Linked DNA regions of Homo sapiens. The protein of the gene in region 1 purifies or fractionates together with the protein of each later gene. This does not show direct contact. Each region holds a gene or a part of one and is shown on either strand. Other genes may lie near its edges.

The links. The genes of interacting proteins can lie anywhere in the genome.
Region 2: the proteins of SYNPO (region 1) and PPP1R9A purify together in Homo sapiens (affinity purification with mass spectrometry; one large-scale study listed by BioGRID and IntAct). This does not show direct contact.

Annotation. Positions count from the first base shown.
Region 1 is NC_000005.10:150,643,625-150,647,161, reverse strand, and holds part of SYNPO (synaptopodin), read right to left. Parts: intron 1-3,537. UniProt on the Homo sapiens protein: Actin-associated protein that may play a role in modulating actin-based shape and motility of dendritic spines and renal podocyte foot processes.
Region 2 is NC_000007.14:94,914,067-94,917,603, reverse strand, and holds part of PPP1R9A (neurabin-1), read right to left. Parts: intron 1-3,537. UniProt on the Homo sapiens protein: Binds to actin filaments (F-actin) and shows cross-linking activity. Binds along the sides of the F-actin. May be involved in neurite formation. Inhibits protein phosphatase 1-alpha activity.

The DNA.
Region 1 (3,537 bases):
AAGTGATTCTCCTGCCTCAGCCTCCCGAGTAGCTGGGACTACAGGCATGTGCCACCATGCCCGGCTAATTTTTGTATTTTTAGTAGAGATGGGGTTTCACCATGTAGGCCAGGCTGGTCTCGAACTCCTGACCTCAGGTGATCCACCCGCCTCGGCCTCCCAAAGTGCTGGGATTACAGGCGTGAGCCACCGTGCCCGGCCACCTGACTTGTTTATCACTCTAACAACAGCCCCTAGAACAGCACCTGTCATACAGTGGCACTCGGTAGATATTGCTGAATGCACAAATGAACCCCCAGAATATTTTCTGTGTGCCTTCCTTAGGGCCCTTTATACTTTCAGAATTATAGCATAGGAATGTGCTCTAATTTTTTTAAACAAAAATGTTTTAATAAACCACCGTCTGCTTTTTTTAATTTGTATTTATTTATTTTTTTGAGACAGTACCTTACTCTGTCACCCAGGCTGGAGTGCAATGATGAGATCTCAGCTCATTGCAGCCTCGACATCCTGGGATCAAGTGATTCTCCTGCCTCAGCTCCCCAAGTAGCTGGGACTACAGATGTATGCCACCATGCTCAGCTAATTTTTGTATTTTTTTTTGTAGAGACAGGGTTTCACCATGTTGCTTAGGCTGGTCTCAAACTCAGGTGGGCGCAAGTGATCCGCCCACCTCAGTCTCTCAAAGTGCTGGGATTACAGGCATGTGCTTTGATTTTATAAAGAGACGCCACTAATATTTCCCCTTTTTAGGGTAGGTAATACATTCACATAGTCTAAAAATTTATTTATTCATTCATTTTTATTTTATTTTTACTTTTCTGAGACAGGGTCTTGCTCTGTTGCCCAGGCTGGCATGCAGTGGCACCATCATAGCTCACTGCAGCCTCAACCTCCTGGGCTCAAGTCATCCTCCCACCTCGGCCTCCCAAATATCTGGACTATCGGTGTGCGCCACCACACTTAGCCAATTTTTTTTTTTTTTTGTATTTTTTGTAGAGAAGGGGTCTCCCTGTGTTGCCCAGGCTGGTCTCAAACTCCTGGGCCCAAGTGATACTCTGGCCTTGGCTTCCTAAAATGCTGAGATTATAGGCATGAGCCACTATACCTGGCCCTAAAAATTAAAACATAAAAAGGTATACAGTAAAAAGTGTCACCCCATCCCTGATTACTCTGTATCACAATCAGTTTCTTCTATCTCCTCCCAGGATTTCTTCCTAGTTTTACTTAAATACTCATTTTAAAATTCACATCTTTTAACACTAGAAAAGTAACAAATTGAGCTAGTTTCACCAATGACTACTGTAGAACATTGCATTCTTTTATTTTATCTGCACAAGACCACAATGAGACAAGCATTGCTTGCCTGTGTTTTACAGAAGAAGAAACGGAGGTTCAGAGATATATAAGGAACTGCCCCAAGGTTGCAAAGCCAAGGGTGACAAAGCTGGAGTCAGAACTGTTCTTTCTGGGGTCTCTAGTCCATGCTCAAGTGGTCTACTCATCCCAAAAGGTCTCTTTGGGACATAAGGGGCAGGAACAAGGTCATCATGGGTCGGGGTTCAGTCTGGGATTTGAGGTCCTGAGATCAGGCTGAGTTCAGTCCCCTATTAATCTATAAGATCACCATAGGCAACCATTTCTCTTTCTATCCCCAGTGGCCAGCTGGCACACAGTTGATGCTCAATTTATAATTGTTGAATAATAAATGAACAAATGCTGCATGAACAAATGCATTGACAGACAGGTGGATGGATCAGCCTGTGACCAGCAACATCAGTGGCTAAGAAAATTCCTCCCTCCATTGCCCCTCTCCTCCCTACTGTGGGAAGCTAATTAGTTCTTGAGGAATCTGACCCTGCCCTCCCCTCCCTTGCCCTCATTAGCACTGGCCATGGCATGCTGAGTCTGTCTCCAGGGACAGTCTTTCCAGGCATCTTGCCAGCGAGGCTCTGAATTCATGGACTCTCAGAGCTGGAAGAATTCTGACAGAGGAGGTATTTCATCACCACCCTGTTTTATAGGTGGGAAACAGAGATCCAGAGAGTAGCCCAGGGTAGAGCCGGGTGACCCCACATGGGACCCGCAGGGAGGCCCACACAGAGCAAAGAAGCTGTGACCAGCAGCGTCACAGCAGCTCCACTGGGGCAGCCACAGGTTTTCTGGCCCCAACCTCCTTCTTCCCTCCTCCATCGAACCTGGTTTTCCCCTAACCTATTAGAAACAGTGAAAGCACACAGCCTATCCCACCCACCCATGATATTACTCCCCCCGAGTAGGACTCTTCTCCTGCCTGGATCACCCTATCTATTAAAGATGTCTATTAGCCATCTATTAGCCAGGCTGCTCCCCTGGGAGGAGCCTAAGGGATGGGGTGCCAGCCACACTGGAGGGCTCTGAGAGGTTGCTCAGCTCATGCTGTGTCTGTCTCCCCTGCTCTGCTTAGAAACCAGGCCTCCTGGCCTGAATCCAAGCTCTGCCATTTGCTAGCCGTGTGACCTTGGCAAGTTACTGTACCTCTCAGAGCCACAGTCTCCTTAACTTGACATGAGTGTTGGGAGGCCACAAAGAGATCATGAAAATGCCAAGGCCTGACTGCCATGAAGCCCAGGTGGACAGACAGAGGGCTCATGCTATCCTGGCATAAGCTGGCAATTGGTCACCCCATTCCACTCCCTGGAAAAGGTCAGATACTCTTCTAGCACAGGGGATTGACTGAAGGTCAAATAGCAGGAGATTCCAGAGCTACACGGAGGCAGAGCTTACTGCCCCAAAACACAGAACCTCGGAATCTCAGAGGTGGCTGTCACCAAGTCCAATTCCCACACAATTCTTGCATCTTCAAAACAACATGCTGAGTGTGCAAGTCTCTGCTGACATACTCAGGTGACGAGCTCACTCCCCCGGGAGGTGTCTTCCACTAATTAACATTCCTCAGCTAGAAAGTTCCTCCTTACATTCACTTCCAATCACTTTTTTTTTTTTTTTTTTCTGAGACAGGGTCTTGCTCTGTCGCTGGAGGGCAGTGGCACCATCATGGTTCACTGTAGCCTCAACCTTCCAGGATCAAGTAATCCTCCCACCTCAGCCTCCTGAGTAACTGGGACTATAGGCATATGCCACTATGCCTGGCTAATTTTTGTATTTTTTGTAGAGACAGGATTTCACTATGTTGCCCAGGCTGATCTTGAACTCCTGAGCTCAAGTGATCCACCCACCTCAGCCTCCCAAAGTGCTGGGATTACAGGCGTGAGCCACCACGTCCAGCCATCATCCGCTTTCTTGATGTGGTTCTGCCTCCCCAGGCTGCACAGAGAAAAAGTCTTCTCAGCCGGGCGCGGTGGCTCGCGCCTGTAATCCTAGCATTTTGGGGGGCCAAGGCAGGTGGATCACGAGGTCAGGAGTTCGAGACCAGCCTGGCCAATATGGTGAAACCCCATCTCTACTAAAAATACAAAAATTAGCCAAGCGTGGTGGCGGGCGCCTGTAATCCCAGCTACTTGGGAGGCTGAGGCAAAAGAATCGCTTGAACTAGGG
Region 2 (3,537 bases), on another chromosome or scaffold:
AGACTTCATCTCTACAAAAAAAAAAAAAATAATAACAGGCATGGTGGCGCTTGCCTGTAGTCCTAGCTGCATGGGAGGCTGAGGCAGGAGAATTACTTGTGCCCCAGAGGTCAGGGCTGCAGTGAGCCATGACTGCATCACTGCACTACAGCCAGGGTGACAGAGCAAGACCTTGTCTCAAAAAAAATTAATTAAATTAACAAAAAACAAGAAACTTTAAATATTTCTATTACAAATAAATACCAGTAAACATCTGAAATAATCTGCTGTCAAAAGAATCCCTTTTTAAACACTAAATGATCACTGTTCAGTTTAAAAGTATAGCTATACCTCTGGATTTTAGAAAAGGGGTTCATTCAACAAATCTTCATTATTTGATTTTACAAAGTATATTAAAATATTTGACATATTTCATTTACCTGGTTATGAAGCATAGGTCATAAAACATAAAAATTTAAAAGGAAATCCAATTTAAATGTTATACCATCGGCTGGGCACAGTGGTTCACGCCTATAATCTCAGCACTTTGGGAGGCCAACGCGGTCAGATCACTTGAGGTCAGGAGTTCGAGACTAGCCTGGCCAACATGGTAAAAACCCTGTCTCTACTAAAAATATAAAAATTAGTCTGGAATAGTTGTGCATGCCTGTTGTCCCAGCTACTCAGAGGGCTGAGGCCTGAGAATCTCTTGAACCCAGGAGGTGGAGGTTTCAGTGAGCTGAGATCGTGCCACTGCACTCCAACCTGGGTGACAGAGCAAAGCTCCCTCTCAAAAAACAAAAAACAAAAAACAAACAAAAAAAAAGTTGTACCATCAAAGTTATCCAAGAAAAGCAAGTTAAATCATATGACCATTCTTATACTAAGTTTATTAATTTACACTTGCAAAAGAATGAAAGAAATGAAATTTCTGATTCCATTAAAAACTTCTTCCTCCCAACTTTTTATAACTAAAAACTTAAACCACACAAAGAGCCTAGGATGTGACTTTTTAATGACCCAAATGCCTTGAGTTAAGGATAATAATCCACTTTGGGATCCAGAAACAGAGTATTCATGCACTTTACAAGATTATACCTTATTTCATCTTCAGAGAATATTATTCCACCCAACCAGATATAGCAGCCCATCTGGAAAGGAAATTTATTACATGTTGCTTCCCTAACATGCTATGGCCAGCCACTTTCAGAAGCCAGAAGATTGTACTTCAAATTCATATTCCAAAGAGTGATCTCTTGATCAGCGGCATCGGCACCACTTGAGAGCTTGTTAGAAATGTAAAATCTAAGGTTCCCCTCCAGACATACTGTTAACGTGGTTTTCCTGTATTATTTCAGAATATGAAATTCTATTATAGAGGTAAACAAAACTAATGGGATGGATGAAACACTTAAGAAGTGATAATCATAGATGGTAAATAAACTAACAACTTATGAGACAGAGGCAACACTCAGGCTGGGCCAAGTATTGATAATGAGAATGCAAGCTGGTGAAATGAAGGCAGTCAGCAGATGCGTAATAAATAGGTAAGCTGGGAGTAAGACATGACAACAATAAAATAAATAGAAATTATGATAAAATGAATGAGATTTACTTATAGACAAAAAGCAGTGGAAATACCAAGTCACCATTATGCCTGGACTGATAGCTACATTACTTCCATATCAGTCATCTACTGAAGACACCAAGGATGGTCCCATGGCTCATCAGCAGGCAAACTAGCAAAGCTACGGCTGTACCTAAGTGTATTTGTCACATCTCTTCAACAGAACAAGTGTGTATCATCGACCCAGGAAATCATTAGTCTATGGAGTCTTGGCTCAAACATCAGCTCTGGTCCTCATAACCACATCATTAATGGGGAAGGGTTATGTGAAAGAAAGATGGGACATAGGAACATTGTTTATCCAGGACAGGTAGCGTGGTCCTTCCAACCTGGTTTGAACCTGAAGTGTGTTAACTTACTCCATAGCTTTCCTCTTGCTTCTGGATTTGTGTTTAACTGGTTTGGTAAATCATGTGATTCAAGCATTTTAATTTGTTTTCTGAGTCTTCTATTCCATAACCTCTGAGATAGCTTGCCTGCTGGTGTACTTGTAGCTCAACCATTGTATCAAGGTAATTTCCCATAGAATACCTACTGAATCAGAATCTTGATGCTAACAAGATCTCCCAAGTGATTCATATGCATATTAAAGTTTAAGAAGCACTGACAAAACTGTTATAAAGGAAGCCTCCGCAAAGACAAAAAGTTGGATCTCAACAGAACTATTCCCTGAAAACCATCCTGAACAAAAAAACTTCATATATCCATGAATGCCCTAACTATGACTCGGAGCCCCCAAAAAGGGAGAGAATACAAGAAGATCCATTTTCAACAACTATCATGTAAGGTTTGAAGAAGCTCTGGTGCCCTTGCTGATTATTTGAATTCTAATCCTGTAAAGCTCCATATGATTTGAGAAAACACAAAATATAGCACAATGTACCTCAATATTAACTCTGCAATATCCTTCTTACTGTGAGTTAGAAAAATCTTTTTCAGATATGCTGTTTCAAGAATAACAATCCATTGTAACACAATAGTATTTGAGGGGAAAAAAAAATACCAATCCAAAGGACATAAGAAACAGAGAAAGGTTGTGACTTCCTTAATGAGGCTGCAGCAACCTTAGAAAGATCATCAAAGCACAGAGTTGGGAACAGCCTGAGAGCTTCCTTAATGGGCTGTACACGTCCCACCGACCAGCAGCTCCTTACTTCATCAGCTCCTCATTTTATGTATTTGTTGTATTTGTTATATTTGCATTGTCCCTGACACATATTAGGGGCTCCATAAATGTTCTGAATTAGTAGAAAAAAATGACATGTCACCCTCTCTTGTTTTGATTCATCTAAGACAAATTTACTTTAATTCAATCCTTTCATTTTGAAAAATTCCTGAAAATGAAGGCATAATTCCATCTCGAATTAGCATGGTCCATAACATTCTCCCATGCCATATCTCAAAGTTGGATTTTAATTTGCTATTATTAATCCCATTCTAATATTTCATGACCCTATGAAACATAACAATCTATCTAATAAGAAATAACTGTCTGTGAAAGATAGGAAAGTCATACTAACTGATGGCTGGCAATACAGTCTGACCATTTTTAAAAATCAAGGTATATGTACAAGTACAAGGTATATGCTACACAGGAAAGATCAACTATTATTCTGATGTTTTTCTAAGTCCAGATTTAAGACATCTTATGGAAATATCTATGTAAAACATCTATAAAAAGAACTGAAGTAGTCACTGAGGACAATATTACACATACAAAGATGATAAATAAGATCTATAACAAAAAACTAAAGGTGCTAGGAATTTTTAACCTAGTACAGAATAAAGTGACAGCCAGGAAAAGAATGTAAAAGTTCTAAAAATCATTTATTTAAAGAATACATTCCCTGTTGCTTCTTTAAGAGGAAGTATGTTTAAGCTTCAAAGGAAAAGACTGAGGTTAGGAATTGCAACTTCCCATTCCATAAATA